3 separate regions of the Homo sapiens genome follow, and regions 2 and 3 are each linked to region 1. Evidence: fine-mapped expression QTL. A gene starts in region 1. Each other region holds a variant in brackets. All regions are shown on one strand. Distances are from middle to middle. Region 1 holds the start of HMGN3-AS1 (HMGN3 antisense RNA 1). Region 2 has its middle 30 kb from the start of LCAL1. Region 3 has its middle 37 kb from the start of LCAL1.

What was found.
Region 2: its variant is fine-mapped to the expression of HMGN3-AS1 in lymphoblastoid cells (GTEx, PIP above 0.99).
Region 3: its variant is fine-mapped to the expression of HMGN3-AS1 in whole blood (INTERVAL, PIP above 0.99).

What each region holds. Positions count from the first base shown.
Region 1 is chr6:79,231,293-79,236,525 of GRCh38, forward strand. It overlaps HMGN3-AS1 (HMGN3 antisense RNA 1), which reads left to right and starts at 2,382. Exons shown (of 2, transcript NR_040671.1): 1 at 2,382-2,635; 2 at 2,770-5,233. HMGN3 (high mobility group nucleosomal binding domain 3) reads right to left here and starts at 3,390. Exons shown (of 7, transcript NM_001201363.2): 1 at 3,254-3,390. The coding sequence starts at 3,268. RefSeq lists enhancers at 1,928-2,718, 2,719-3,508 and a silencer at 2,666-2,715.
Region 2 is chr6:79,341,173-79,346,405 of GRCh38, forward strand. No RefSeq gene overlaps it. Among named protein-coding and RNA genes, the nearest start is that of LCAL1, 30 kb to the left of the region's middle. The variant C/G (reference allele first, on the strand shown) is at 2,874.
Region 3 is chr6:79,274,267-79,279,499 of GRCh38, forward strand. No RefSeq gene overlaps it. Among named protein-coding and RNA genes, the nearest start is that of LCAL1, 37 kb to the right of the region's middle. The variant T/G (reference allele first, on the strand shown) is at 2,264.

The sequences.
Region 1 (5,233 bases):
CGGGCATTTGTGGATGTCTGGCCAGAACAGTCTAGAACTCAATCACTCATTGTCTCACCACTGAGTCCATGAATGTTATCATTTCCCCTGTAATTCCACTCACCCACCATCCATTATCTAAAAAATACAGGAAACTCACTTTTATTTACATCTCACAAACTTAGAGATAATATGCACTGAAGAACTCTTCACTAAGTGCTGTATTACTTCACAAAATACTATGGCATTTATAAAAAACCACTTGGCTTAATGTAGTTATGACTATCACACACAAAGATACACATAAAACTTACAAAGAAATGTCATCAGAACATTTTAATATTAATTCAGATGATATTATAGCCCTGAAGTTGCAAAACTGAGGCCTGGTCATGTTAAGATACAATCAGGAGACACACTTGAATACCTGGTAACAAAAAATGACTCTGACTTCTTTGTATATTTGAGTCCTACCCACACTTTTAAGACCAGCCTAAAGTTAACTTTCCTTATCTGTCCTACTGCTTGTGGGATCTATAACTACACATTCTGGAACACATACACAGTTTTAATGTTATTCAACTGTTTTGTGCTGCTAGTCTTATCACCTCATTGAATTAAACACAAGTTCCAAGAGGGCAAAAACTGTATGTCCCTACAGCATTACAACAGGGCTAGGATTCCAGATGTTTTCATTGACTTTATCTGTACCACTTCTTGCTCTGCAGAACAACTTACTCAGATGTTCATTAAATAACATTTCTTGATTTCTAGGAAAGGTTGATACAGGGGGCTAAGAAGGCAAAAAAGTACTAGGGGGACATTTTAAAAGCTTATTATATTGTAGAGCAGACAATTCTTTAGTCAAGAAAAATATTGTGTAGTATGTAAATGCTTTGGCAGTTACCCCAGCTTTGAAGATCTTGAAGAGCTATGCATGGATTGTCTCCAGTTCTTTTTTGTATCTAAGCAGGCTTTACCTAATGACAGTGGTTCCTCACATAAGTTCCAGTGAACTTCAGGATTCCATGAGGCTGCTCTAAGACTTGACTGATAGATGGATGGCCATGATCGCCGTGTTTAATCTGAGGTTGTTCCTGCCCAGGTACCAACTGAGGTCGTTAGGCTTCAGGTATAAATGGAAAGCCTTCCTATTAATCAAGGAGAGGTTTTCCATCACCGGAGAACACTCTGATGTCCTCAGGAATGACACACAGGTGCCTGTACACAGTTTTGCCCCTAGTCTCAGGACCATTGGCTAGCTTATGCATGGGGGTTCCCTGCCTTCCAGGGAAATAAAACTGTAGCTGTAATTTTACTGTTATTTTAGTTTTTTTTTTTTTTCCTTCCGTCTCCTTGAGAGAGGCAGACAGGGGAAGTAAGAATAATGGTTTCAGCAGCTCTGGCCCTTGAATAAACAGCAAGGAAGGGTTCCATCGTCAGGGTCCATTATACATAAAGTGTGCACACCTAACCTACTGTTTATGTAAACAATGGTTATAATTCCCAGGAAAAAAAGATGGCCTCCAGCTCACTTACTCTGTAACCCGTATCTTGATGATTAGTTCCTTTGTCTCTACTAGAATTTCCAATCCATCATTAACCCTCAGTCAAAATGCTGAAAATGGTGACATCACTTAATATCCTAATTCTAGTAAAACAGGGCTAGAAAATACCTTCATAAAATTAAGTTTAAATAATAAATCTCAAGTATTAGTGCTCTTAATATGCCATCTGTCTTCTTAAACTGGGAGTACCTTTGGATTTCCTTAATTCCTCTTGACCCACCCTTTCGTAAGTGAGTACGAAATGGGTGAGAATAAGACTTTGGCATCTATAGCATCTGATTAAATCTTTACTAGTAGTTATTGGTTGGTGAGATGCAGGACAATTTATGTCTTTAAGTCCCAGCTGAATGGGGGTAACACCGCTCAAGCTGTTTTCAGGATTAAATGAGATAATGCAAGTCAAATTCTGCACAGCGTGAGGGACACAGTATGTGCACAACAAACTCTAAGACTTTTAAACACTTTCAATTATTTTTAAAAAGTGGGGTAGGAGACAAGTTTCTACCCAATTTTTAGTAATAACATATAAGAAGGGGAAAGCTTTTGAATTTTTAAAACTTCAGTATTTTAAAATAATGCAGTCACTCTCACACACAAATTAGTCCATGGTCTTTGATAAAGCAAGACATTAGGTGTAATTTTGCTTCAAATTTAATACCCACACTCGTTGACACTGTTGGAAACACTGAGGCTGGCGGTGGGAGGGTGCAAAGCACTTGCTTAGGAACCAGCTGAGAAATCCTCACTGATTTCTCAGGGAGGAGGAAACCTTTCCCTTCCCTCCCCGGGACAAGTCGAAGCCCCACCCCGAGGGAGATTTGTGTCCCTGAATGTAGTAGTTGGTGTCCGGGGCCTGCGCAGAAGAGGACAGTCCGCAAGGGGCGGAAGACAAGACAAAAATGACTCCAGTTCGCTAGACGCGCAGAGGGGCGGATAGCGCGCGGACCCCGCCTTCCCCAACCGAGTGTGGGTTCCAGTCGCTGGGGAGGACCTGGTGGCCCCCTGACCTTGGACGAGCCATATTGGACGCCCCGGCGCCGTCCCGTCTTCCACGCTGCCAACTCCACCGCTCCCGCCCCGAACTGCGGGTAGGTCCAGGCCGCCAGGCCCCGCCTCGCCGGCCCCAGCCCTGATTGACACTGGAGTTGGTACATACGGGTCTGCAGCGGAGGCGAGCAGGAGGGTGAGCGCTATTTTAAACATGGCTTTCTCTTTCCCTTAGCCTAGGAGCCACCGCAGCGCACCCAGCCCGCGAGTACAGCCGCATGGGAATAATCCCAACATTTGCCTGATTTATTTTCTTCCCTCTCCTTACGCTTGTACTTGTTTTTCTCCTCTCGCTGTTTTCCCTTCACACTAATTCGCAACCTGGCAGTTTGCAAAGAGGAAACTCCCTTTCGGAATGGAAAGCCGCTTTTGCTTCTTGTTGTTGGGGGTGGAAAACATTCCAGCGAGAATGAGTTCAAAAAGAAGGGAAACCGCGTCACTGGAGAGAAAGTAACATTAAGAGATCGATGAGGACGGAGTGGGTAGGGGGGACAGAGAGAGGAACGTCTGCAACAGGCATCTAAAAACAAGCGTGGAGGAGCAAAGATTCCCAATCCCCGGGTTACTACCGCGCGCGTTCTGCGCGAGCCATTGCAATGCCAGCATTTACTGTAAGCAGAATTTGAAGGCTTTTGAAATCTTTTTTTGGTAAGACTTACCTTTCTCTTCGGCATAATGACTATGTCGGTGAAGCAAAAAGTAAAGCAACGGACTGGAACTGCTGGCGCCGCCGCTGGATGCTGCCTCTGCCTCTGCAGCTGCTCACGCGCAGGGCACGACGTAGCCCGGCCTCTTCGACCTGCACCTCCGCGGCTCCCTCTGGGGGCCCTCTGCTCGCCTCCCTGCTGCTCCAATGAGGAGCCCCGCCAGCCGGCCGCGAGGCCCCATTGGCTGAGGCAACGTTCTAAATTCCACGAGGGCACGCCCACCTCCGCGCGCGGTACGCGCTGTTGTAGTTTCCACTTCACCGAAAAAAATCTGCCTGGCGACTGAGCATGCCCAGTTCAACTAGTAGCCTCCAGGCCACACAATCCTGAAGTTTCATTGTTTCGCTGCTCTCTCTTTGAGATTGTAAGAATAAGAACAGTGTGTGTCTTCATAGGAAGGAAAAAGAGTAAGAATGAATACGTAAACTTTATAATGTAAATATATACACAGCAGGTACCTTATTCATTTCCTACCCATAAAGGCTTTTAATGAATGTTACATGGTGGGAATCTGTAAAGCGTGGGAAGGTACTCTGTACTGGAAGAGCGTGGCAACTTCTAAAGGCCTCAGTTTCCCCCCCTAGATATATAGTGACAACAGTCCCTAAAATCACTTAGCTCTAATTTTCTGAAATCTGTGATTATAAATCACTCACTAATTCAGCTAACTTCAAACTAGATGTGAAGACGAATAGGACATGTTTGTTACGGAAATTAGGAAAAGAAAGAACAAGGCAAAAACTGATTATTTTATATTTGAGACATATATTTGAATGACACCCGTCATGTTACACTTTATGCGTAATATTTCTCAAAGTTCTGCAAGGCATAAAATGAGCATTGCAAAAATATTTCTGAATTCATTTTATGAGACCAGATTTACTCTGATACCAAAACCAGTGAAAGACTTCAAAAGAGAGTTACAGACCAATATCACTCATAAACATAGACACAAAAGTCGTGAACAAAATTTTAGTAAATGAAACTCAACAACATTTAAAGGGACAATACATCATGACCTGTGGGGCTTATCTTGGGAATGCAAAGCTGCTTTTTTAATATCTGAGAATCAATCAATGTAATTGGCAGGATTAATAGAATAAAGGGGGAAAAACAATCCTTTCAGCAGATGCAGGAAAAGCGCTAGTGAATGGGTAAGCAAATTGTGATGAGCACATGCAGTGGAATACTATTCAGCAATAAAAAACAATAAAAAATTTTCCTACATGGATGAATATCAAAAACAAAGTGCTGTACGAAAGAAGTCAAATACAAAAGACCACACTGAATGATTGCATTCATATGAAATTATAGAAAAAGCAAAATTGGGCAAAGTTAGTTTCAGAATCATCTTAGCAGGCAAAGCTCACATCATAGGAAAATGTGTTGAAGCCTTACATTACAAATATGGCCAAATCCACTTTGGTAACACAGAGGCTGCAAATATGTATTAAAAATATCATGTATTAAATATGTATTAAAAAAGCAATGAAGTTTAATATTTCACTTTTTCTTTAGTAATTTTCAGAATACATTAATTGATCTAGTACTCTCCAGAGGTGGTTGATTACTTTCTTTTTTGGAACATCTTTATGAACTCATGGATTTTTACATATTTGGTGTGCATCAGTGTATTGCTATCATTATTATTACCTTTTTAATGCTCCTATTACCACATCTTTAGCCAATGCATACCCTTTCAAATTAGTGCTTGTGTCCTTTTGACATGATCTTAATCATTTTTGATAGATTCCCTGTTCTTGGGCATTCAGTGAATGACAATAGTATACTGAAACGAATTAAGATAAAAACCAATTGCTTAGAGCTAGATAAAAATTTACAAGTTAATAATTTTATCATTAAAATAATATTTATAATGAAGATGTCTTTCAAGATATTAATTTGCCAAATACTTGATAGTTAAATAAAGAA
Region 2 (5,233 bases), 110 kb after region 1:
AGGGAGAGATGAGTGAGAATGAAGTGATTCATAACACAACAGAAAAAAATAAATCATTGTGAAAAATTTTTGGAAGAGACAGAAGCAGGGGAGATCAAGAGCTCGTGTGGATGGGTTAGCATTAACAAGGGAGCGGAATATCTTTTGAGAGATTACAATGAGGTAAGAAAGAATTATGAAGATAGGGATTGTGACGGTTAATTTTATGTGCTAATTTGGACAGAATATGGTGTCCAGTTGTTTAGTGGAACACCAGTCTAGATTTTACTGTGGATGCCTTTTTAAAGATGTGATTAACATTTAAATCAGTAGACACTGAGTAAAGCAGATTACTCTCCATAAAGTAGGTAGGCCTCATCCAGTTGGTTGAAGGCCTTAAGAGCAACACTGAGGTCCCCTGAGAAAAAATGAATTCTGCCTCCAGACTGACTTTGGACTTGACGCTGCAATGTCAACTCTTCCCCTGGGTCTCTGGCCTGCTGGCCTGCCTTGCAAAATTTGGACTTTCCAGCCCTACAATTGTGTTAGCCAATTTAAAAAAATAAATTTCTCTCTCTCTCTCTCTCTCTCTCTCTCTCTCTCTCTCTCTCTCTCTCTATATATATATATATATATATATATATATATATATATATATAATATATATAAAATAAAATGATGACAAGTTTCTCACCTTATTCTGTAAGGCTAGCATGATCTTCATACCTTAATTGGACAAGGGTAGTAGAAAAAAGGAAAACCACAAGCCAAACTCAGTTATGAACATAGATACAAAAAACCTAAATAACAAAATTCTGACACATGTTAAAATGAGGGATATATCATGGCTAAGTAAGACCTAGCTCAGTAATTGAAGGATGGCTTGCAATAAAAAAATCTCTTAATGCATTTTGGAAGAAAAATCCCTATTACATCCATTCCTTATCTGAAACAACAGCAGTGGCAACAAAACTAAAACATTATTACTAAGCTATGGCTAGAAAGACCATTCTTCAACTTAAGTATATGCATCAGAGACTACATATATATACACACCATTTTAATATGAAACACTATGATCATTCTTGCTTAAATAAGAAACAAGACTTGGATGCTCTCTCTATATAAACACAGACACAGACACACACACATTGCTATTCGTTCTGTTCCTTTGTAGAACCTTGATAAATACTGTATTAGTCCATTTTCATACTGCTGTAAAGAACTGCCCAAGACTGGATAATTTACAAAGGAAACAAGCTTAATTGACTCACAGTTCAGCATGGCTGGGGAGGCTTCAGGAAACTTAATATCATGGCGGAAGGTGAAGGAGAAAGCAAGGCACCTTTTTCACAAGGCAGCTGGAAGGAGAAGTGTCGAGTGAAGTAGGAAGACTCCCTTATAAAACCACCAGATCTTGTGAGAACTCACTCCTGATCACAAGAACAACATGGGGAAAACCATCCCCATGATTCAATTACCTCCACCTGGTCTCTCCCTTGACAGGTGGGGATTATGAGGATTATGAGAATTAAAATTCAAGATGAGATTTGGGTGGGGACACAAAGCCTGACCATATTAAATACATTGAAATTTAGTCGATATCTGTGGAACACAATATTTCTGAAGGGACTATTACCCAACCGAAGTCTAGACTGATTAGCACCAGGCTGGAAACAGCTGAGTCCAACCAACATCAGAAACTGTTTTGTTGTATCCCCACATTTTAATAGATACATACACACAAAAACATTGCGCACAATCTTAAACAATCACTGTTAACGTCTCAGTGTAATTTATTTACGTCTTTTTTGTATACACGTTTTTAACATGTTGAAGGCACATTATTCACACAATTTTGTAACTTGCTTTAAAATGACTTTTATTACTTTTATATATTCTTTTTTATAAATAATTTGTTACATCTATTCTTTTTTTGTAAATAATTTTAACTTTTCAATTCAGAGGGTACATGTGCAGGTTTGTTACAAGAATATATTGCATGATGCTGAGGTTTGGGGTACAAATGATCCCATCACCCAGGTAATGAGCATGGTATTCAATAGGTAGGTTTTCAACCCTTTCCCTCCCAACCTCCGCCCTCTATCTGTCCCCAGTGTCTATTGTTGCCATCTGTATGTCCATGAGTAACCAATGTTTAGCTCCCACCTATAAGTGAGAACATGTGGTATCTGGTTTTCTGTTCCTGTGCTAATTCACTTAGGGTAATGGCCTCCAGCTGCAGCCATGTTGCTGCAAAAGACATCATTTCATTCTTTTTAACGGCTGCATAGTATCCCATGGTGTATATTACCACATTTTCTTTTTTCCAATCTAACTTTCAAGCTGAGAGTCAAATCAAGAACTCAGTCCTCTTTATAATAACCAAGAAATATATAAAATACTTAGGAATACATCTAACCAAGGAGGTGAAAGATCTCTACAAAAAGAATTACAAAACACTGCTGAGAAAAATAATAGATGACACAAACAAATAGAAAAACATTTCCTGCTCATGGTTTGGAAGAATCAACACCATTAAAAATGGCCAGAATGCCCAAAGCTATCTATAGATTCAACACTCTTTCAATCAAATTACTAGCATCATTTTTTTTACAGAAATAGAAAAATACTACTGTAAAATTCATATGGAACCAAAAATTTAAAAAAGCCCCAATAGCCAGGGCAATCCTAAACAAAAAGTTTTATATATTCTTTACTAAAAATCAGAAAATATAGAAAAGGAAAAGGAACTTTGAAAGCCATCATAATTCCACTGTCCAGAGGAACCATTATTTACGCTTTTGGGTGTAAACTCCAGATTTTTTTTCCTCTTTCAATTGCAACTTTAAAACATCTCTAGTTGTCATAAAATTAAAAAAAAATACCTAAAT[C/G]CCACATTTCTCCTCTCAGACAAATTGTGTGATATGGCAAAAGAGGGTCTAGTTGGCTCTCCCAACCCTCTCTGGGTGTCAGTATGGTGTCCACACTGAGTTAAGAAGCACTGGGCCCCTCATGGAGACTGCTGGGGAGAAATGAGGTTTTAGCATGGACCTCTAGATTGGAGGCCATGTGCAAGATGGAATAAAGACTTAGAGTGGTCTGCAGAGCCACTGAGAATCCAGCAAGGAAGTAATTAGGTCATTATAATCCTACCCTGTTCTCTATAAACATAAAAGAAGTGAAAAGAAGAGGGAAACTGAGAGATTGAGTGGAAAAGACTGGGTTAAACCTGAGTTTATATTATTGGATAAGACTAAATTTTAATCTGGATTGGGTTAACATTAGATTGCTCACCACTCCATCTCCAGTGAGTAGGTGAGATCTCTTGTAAAGGAAATCAGAGAAATTTTAACAAATAATTAACTACATTTCTATGGACATCTGAGTTGAAGAAAATTTTCCAGTGACTATCCATTTATAATAAAATTTTTACTGTTAAAGGAAAAATTTTAAAAGGAGTGTAATTGTGAATGGGTGGCAAAATTTTATTTAACTCATTAATTAATGAGGGAATCAATAAAATGTTACAACTCATTTCAAAGGAGTATTCAAAGAGAAAACAAATATATAGACATGCTAAGACTTGAAAAATGAATACAAACTGGCAAATTAGGTCAATATCTATAGGGCAGTAATCAGTTGTATTCCCCTAGACAATATTTGCATTTCTATAAACAAAGTCATTTGCATTATTATCAGCTTTCTAGTTTTCTACAATTTACAGACTTGCAAAGTAGCTCAAAGCCCACAAAAGGCTGCAAAACCCCGAAGAGTACACTGGGCAGGACACCCAATATATTTTTGTCTACGTACACTAAAAAACAACCCTATGTCCCCCACCAAACCCCACCTTCCAAGAGTATATTGGAATGGGAAAGTTTAAAGGTAGAAGTTTGGGCATGCCTGAAATGATCTACATTGTAAAATTGGGAGGCATTTAAAGTTAGGAATAGGGGGCAGGATTAGTAGGCAGAATATTGGTCCCCTAAACATGTCCATGTGCGAATTCCCAGAACCTATGAATATGTTACATTATGTGGCAAAGAGGTATTTAAGATAGTAGATGAAACTAAGGTTGCTAATCAGCTGATCTTAAAATAGCGAGATTGGTTTGGACTCTTGGGATAGACCCAAGGGTTCATAAATGTGGAAAAAGGAGTCAAAAGAGGAGGTCAACAATGTGAAGTGAGAACTCTACGCACTGTTGCTAGCTTTGAAGATGGATGCCAAAGGCCAAGGAGGCAGCCTCTAGAAGCTGGAAGGGGCAAGGAAATGGATCCTCCCCTAGAGAATCCTCCAGAAAGGAATGCAGCCCCACCAACTCCTTGATTTTATCCCAGTGAAACCCATTTCAGATTTCTGAACTACAGAACTTTAAGATAATAAATCTGTATTGTTTTAAGCCTCTGATCCTCCTTGCTCTTTCATGTATAAGGACCCTACATAAGGGATCCTACTTATATAAGTCCTTACATTGGGCCTGTGTAAGTAATCCAGGATAATCTCCCCACATCAAGATCCCTAATTTACTCACAGCTGCAAAGTCACTTTTGTTATGTAAGGTTACATATTCACAGGTTCTAGGGATTAGGATGCAGGATGTGGTACATCGTTGAAGGATCATTATTCTGCCTATCACAGAACTTCTGATTCTATTTCAACATTTTTTCTTGTACTTTTGTGCTCTTGCTTTCACATAATACCTTGAGAGAATTGCTTAGTCTTTCAATTCACTAACTTGATCTTTTATGTTCATTCTGTTAGATAATCTGTTTTTAATTTCAGTAATCATGTTTTAATCAAGAACTCCAATCTGTGTGTAGTATGTGTGAACACAACCCCTTGTATCTCTGAAAATAGGATTTTCAGAGATATTTGTTTGGCTATTTTATTCTATTTTCTATGTTAACTCTGTTTTCTTGGGAGTTAAATCTCTTTGTTGGAATTTATGTTTTCTTTGCGCTAGGTTTTTCTCAAATACTTGTTGACTCTTTCATTTCCAGACTGCTTTCAGATGAATGTTTAAATAACATAGTATTTACCTTTAGAGTACATTTCATTTCTTCAAAGTGAAGCTTTTCATTTCTATGGTTGGAATAAAGGTTCTGCTTTTAGGAGCACTGGTGACTGTAAGCAGGGTGTGAGAAAAGCTTCAGTCTCAGGAGGTGATGGTTAAAGCTGTGCAATGGAACATAGCAATTAAGGGGGGCTCCAATACCACATCAACTGGAGTCAAGTCCTGGCTGTGCCG
Region 3 (5,233 bases), 43 kb after region 1:
TACAAATGAACATCATCATCATCATCATCATCACTATTTTTCTGAGCATTTGGAAAGAAAACTGTTGCATTTGTCTTAGATAAAAGACTCAGATAATTCCCTAGAAGCCTGAGGACAAGATTCTAGATCAATCCTCTAAACTAGGTTGATTCCTCATCCACTTTCTGACCTCCTACTTTCTTGGTGAGAAATGATTATTGACCCTCCTCAATGAGGGTGTAATGATAGAGCATAGTATTTTGTCCCCTATTGGATGTTGCATGGAGAGTTGGGCTGAAATTCTTCTGTGCAAGTGAGAAGCCATAAAGGGAAGAAAGGGTCAGACACTTCCAAATCTTTGGATTTTCTTAGTTCCTCTTTTGTAAGCCTCAATTGTTGTGTGTAGTCAGCAGGGTCCCAGAGGCAGACCACCACGGACCATCTTGGCAGTACTTGTCAGCAGCAGTGTCCAGCTCCCAGGGACTAACTCAGTTAGTGGTAGCTCTTGTTCCTAGTGACAGAGCCTTCCTGGGGCTGCTCCAGTAGCAGCCAGAGCTCCTAAGGAGAAGCAGCTCTGCCAGTCTTCCAAGTCCCAAGCTCCATCTCCTTCAGCAACAACACAGGTCTCCATTATTCTTTCTGAAGATACCCTTTGTCCCAGTTCCTACTGAATCCAGCAGTGTTTTTCAATCTGTGTGTTTCAGATGCCTGAGAAGTCACCAAATTACTGCAAGAACAAGTGAATTAATATTTACATAAAGTATGTATGTTAATAAGCTGAATAAATGTTAATAGTTACTGTACTTATACTCTGTACTGTACTAAGCCCTTTGCACACATTATCTCATTTAATCCTCATAAAAATGCTATGAGGTAGGTGTAATTATGACCCCCATTTTACAGGTGAGGCAACTCAGTCTCAGAGAGGTTAAGCAAATTGCTGAAGATCATGAGACCAGGAAATGGATAAACTGGTCTTCAAATCCAGGTCATTTAATCTCAAAGTCTACGATCTTAATCATAACATAAGTATGTCTCTTACATATGTGTATTACTTTTTTACAAATGTTTTTGTGTTTTGATTTAAAAGTTATAGATGAAAAGTATTATGTAATTTGTAGTAGATTTTTAAATCTTTGTTTATTTTCACTATTTTCTACACTGAAAGTACCTCAACTGCCATATGATTGGTACATGACACAGTCTTTTTAAAGAGCTCTTTCAAGGATTTTTACTCAAGGCCTTTAAAAAATATAGTAGAGAAAAATGACTTTGTAAGTCAATGGAACATCATATTTGTACCTGACCTCTTAGCAGCATTCTGTTGTTCCTTAAGCAGGGGACCCTATCACTGATTGATCCCTTGAGTCAAATAAGCAATGAGGCACCTCTCAAGACTTTGAGTTACATTCAAATCATCAATTCTGACACAAAAAATTGGAATAGACAAAACATGGTGAAATGAACTTAATTGACTAGCTATTTCATTCATTTATTCACCCATTCAATACATTTTATTGTCTCCTACCAGGCATTGAGTTAGGAACTAAAGATGCAGCCTTCCAAGCAAGAAGTGGTGTTTGTCAATTGCAAGAAAATGTGACACCTGACTAGTTACTTTGCCTGTAAAAACTCTTTTATTCTTTGTTTTTAATATTTATATTCTACATACCCTCACCCTCTAAAAATTTACTTAGCAAATGCAAAACTTAGGAAATATAGGCCAATTAGAGTTTCGCTCTAAAAAATAATCAGGTCCTACTTGGTCTGCTCCCCAGGGCTCTGAAACATCACTACCCATGGGTCACTCTACAGGGACCCTAGTTACCATGGCTGCTAGCTAAATCTTTGAATCCAGTTTTGTGCTTTACTGTGTGGGGGCTCTGCTTGGACACAAAGGAAGGATTACAGAGAAATTTCTCAAAAAGCCTTTAGTTCGTCTTTTGATTCTAAAGAAAAACTATGACTGATAGATTTTTGGGAAATGGCATTTCAAATCTTTAGGTTAGAATCAGAAGACAGGTTAGACAGGAGGAATTTAGGGGGCTTTTGCGTACTTGGAAATCAGCATCAAGACAGCCTTGCTGCTAGCCTCAGGAATAAGGCCTACTTCTAAAAATTGGGTTTGGCCATGGCCTCTGGGCCTGAACCCTTCTTAACCTCAGTCTTTCTTTTTTTTCCTAACATGTCAGCAGTGCTGAAGCCTTGCTAACTGCTGGCAGACTTTTCTAGTGCTGTCTGCTTGTAGCCTGTCCTGGATCCCCCATAATTGGGCACTGCCTAC[T/G]TGGTCATGTAGTGGTGAATACTCTTTTTTGGCTTACCTTTCACGTGGATGTTGCCCTGCCTATTGATAACCATTTTTCATTCATTCAACAAATATTTATTGCATGCCAGGCATTGTTCTGGGACCTGGAAATATAACAGTGAATAAAATAGACAAAACCAACAACAATGACAACAAAAACCCCTTGCCTTCATGAAGCTTCACATTCTAATAGATAGTGAAGTCTGATGAGCTGGCTTGCTTCCTCATCAGCCACAGCTGGATACTTTCCCCTATAACTGCACATTCTGTTTCCAGGTCCTAATTCTCTATAGTCTGTGGTCCCACTGCAGCGAAGGAAACTGTCCTCTTACAGGATAAAGAGTGTTATATGAAGAAAGGAAACAGGACCAAAAGCAAGTAAATAGGGGTGGCATAAACTTAGAGATAGAAATATGTTCAGGTTTGCAAAAATTCGAGGAACAATAAATAAAACTTTTAAAGTGTATTTAACAAAGAGAAACAAAGATGCAGCAGCCTACTGGGTGTAGTTTAGTCAGCAGTGATCTATTACTGAAAGATTACTTAGAAAAAACCAAGCTCCTCAACCTCAGTTTTACTTGTGTCTTTTTGCAGAGGAGAGTAGGGAGAGGAGTAGGAGGGAAGGAGAGACTCCTTAGCAAGAGAAAGAGAAGCCCAAAGTGGGAGAACATAATTATATTCTAAATAGTTTCCCAACTCTGATAACTTGCATCCCAGTGTTCTGTGGAAGATGTTCAAATTGCATTGCTGATCTAATCTGGAAAGAATGTAGAACTGTAAAGGGTGGTAGAAGTGGCAGGAAACTGGGCATGGTTAAATACTGTTCCCATTTTGAAGAAGTGGGAGATTTTGCATAATAAACATCAGTGACTAGATGTTGGATATTTAAAGGTATATAAACTATTTATTGATAGACAAGGCTTATAGATTTATTTCTTCTGGGACACAAACATGATGTGGCCATAGAGGCCAGTGGCCTCAGTATGCTTAGTCTTGGACATGAAAGCTGAAGTATCATGTCTTGGCTGGATGCAGTCATTCATGCCTGTAATCCCAGCACTTTGGGGGGCCAAGGTGGGAGGATCGCTTGAACCCAGGAGTTCAAGACCTGTCTAGGCAACATGGTAAAACCCTGTTTCTACAAAAAAATACAAAAATTAGCCAGGCATAATGACACACACTTGTAGTCCCAGCTACTCAGGAGGATGAGGAGGGAGGTTTGTTTGAGTCCTAGGAGTTGTAGCCTGTAGCAAGCTATGATCCCACCACTGCAATACAGCCTGGACAATAGTGAGATCCTACGTCTTGAAGAAGGAAAGAAAGAAAGAAAGAAAGAAAGAAAGAAAGAAAGAAAGAAAGAAAGAAAGAAAGAAAGAAAAGAAGAAAGAAAGAAAGAAAGAAAGGTAGGAAGGAAGGAAAGAAAGAAAGAAGGAAGGAAGGAAGGAAAGGAAGAAAGAAAGAAAGAGAAGGAGAGAAAGAGAGAAAGAGAAAAAGGGAGAGAGAGAGATAGAGAAAGAAGAAAAAAAAGAAAGAAGAAAAGAAAGAAAGAAAAAGTGGCATGGTCTCTGGTGGGGAAGAATCTTCTTTATTTGCTGCAGATCTTCACAGAGCTTGTTGTCCAGACCTTTGGCCAGGACTCAGCTGTAATTTCCATCCTTCACGTCCTTCTGTCTGTTTAAGAACCAATCTGGGATCTTGTACTGGCCTGGGTTTGGCATGATGATGATCACACATATCACTTCATGCTCAGTGAATCCTCTAACCTCTTGATGAGGTCAATCTCTGTTTTCCCCAACAACACATGAGCATGTTTTCATCTCACACTCTTAATGGTACTGATGGTAAATTTCTGCCATCCATTGATGTTGGTGTTGAGTGCAGTCGTCCCTTGGTATGCACAGTGTATTGGTTTCAGAACTCCCAGAGGATACCAAAATCCTTGGATGCTCAAGTCCCTTATATAAAATGGTGTAGTATTTGTATATAACCTATGCACATATTCTCATATACTTTAAATCATCTCCTGATTACTTGTAATATCTAATACAACATAAATGCTATGCAAATAATTGTTACACTCTATTATTTAGGAAATAATGACAAGAAAAAATGTCTGTGCATGTTCAGTAAACACAACCATCCATTTTTACCAGGTATTTTTTAATGCAAGGTTGGTTGAATCCTCAGATGTCGAGCCCATGGATACTCTCCACAGCCAGAGAGAGAGTACTGACTGCACTTGCAAAAATTGCTGGAGTATAGCAGGGATTATGAGAGATATGGTAGTAGCATGTAGACCTCCTGTGGGAGAGAAATAGTGGATTTTTTAAAAGTTTGTTTGGAAGCTTCTAGATTAGGATTGGGCAAACTATGGCCCACAGGCCAAATGCAACCCATTGCTTATTCTTGTTAATAAAGTTACATTCCAAGGAAGCCATGCCAATTTATTTATGCATTGTCTATGTCTGCTTTCATGCCACAATAGCAGAGTTGAGAAGATTATCATATGGCCTACAAAATTCTAAATATTTACTTCTTATGTATTGCTTTATAGAAAACTTTGATTCTAGGTAGAAAAAGCACTGGGCACTAGGACTTGAGTTTGCTAGGAACAGTTACGTCCAATGAAACAATAATTTCTTTTTGGTCAGACTTTCCAGACAGAACAGGGAAATGTTATTCACACTGAGCATCTGGTCTTCACTAAAAATTCAACCACCATTTCTTGAGTATTTACTATATAACAAGCATTCGGAATATAAAGATGAAAAATTGTGTGGAACAGGAGCCACATACATAAGGGGATAATTCCAAATAAAGTAGTACTTGCTATGAGAGGAGTGTGTCCAGAATGGTGCAAGAGCTCTGAGGGGGACGTTTACTAAATCTGGGATTTATAGCAAAGGAATACAGTGGGATCAGTGGGTAGAAAATTACTAAGAGGAAACA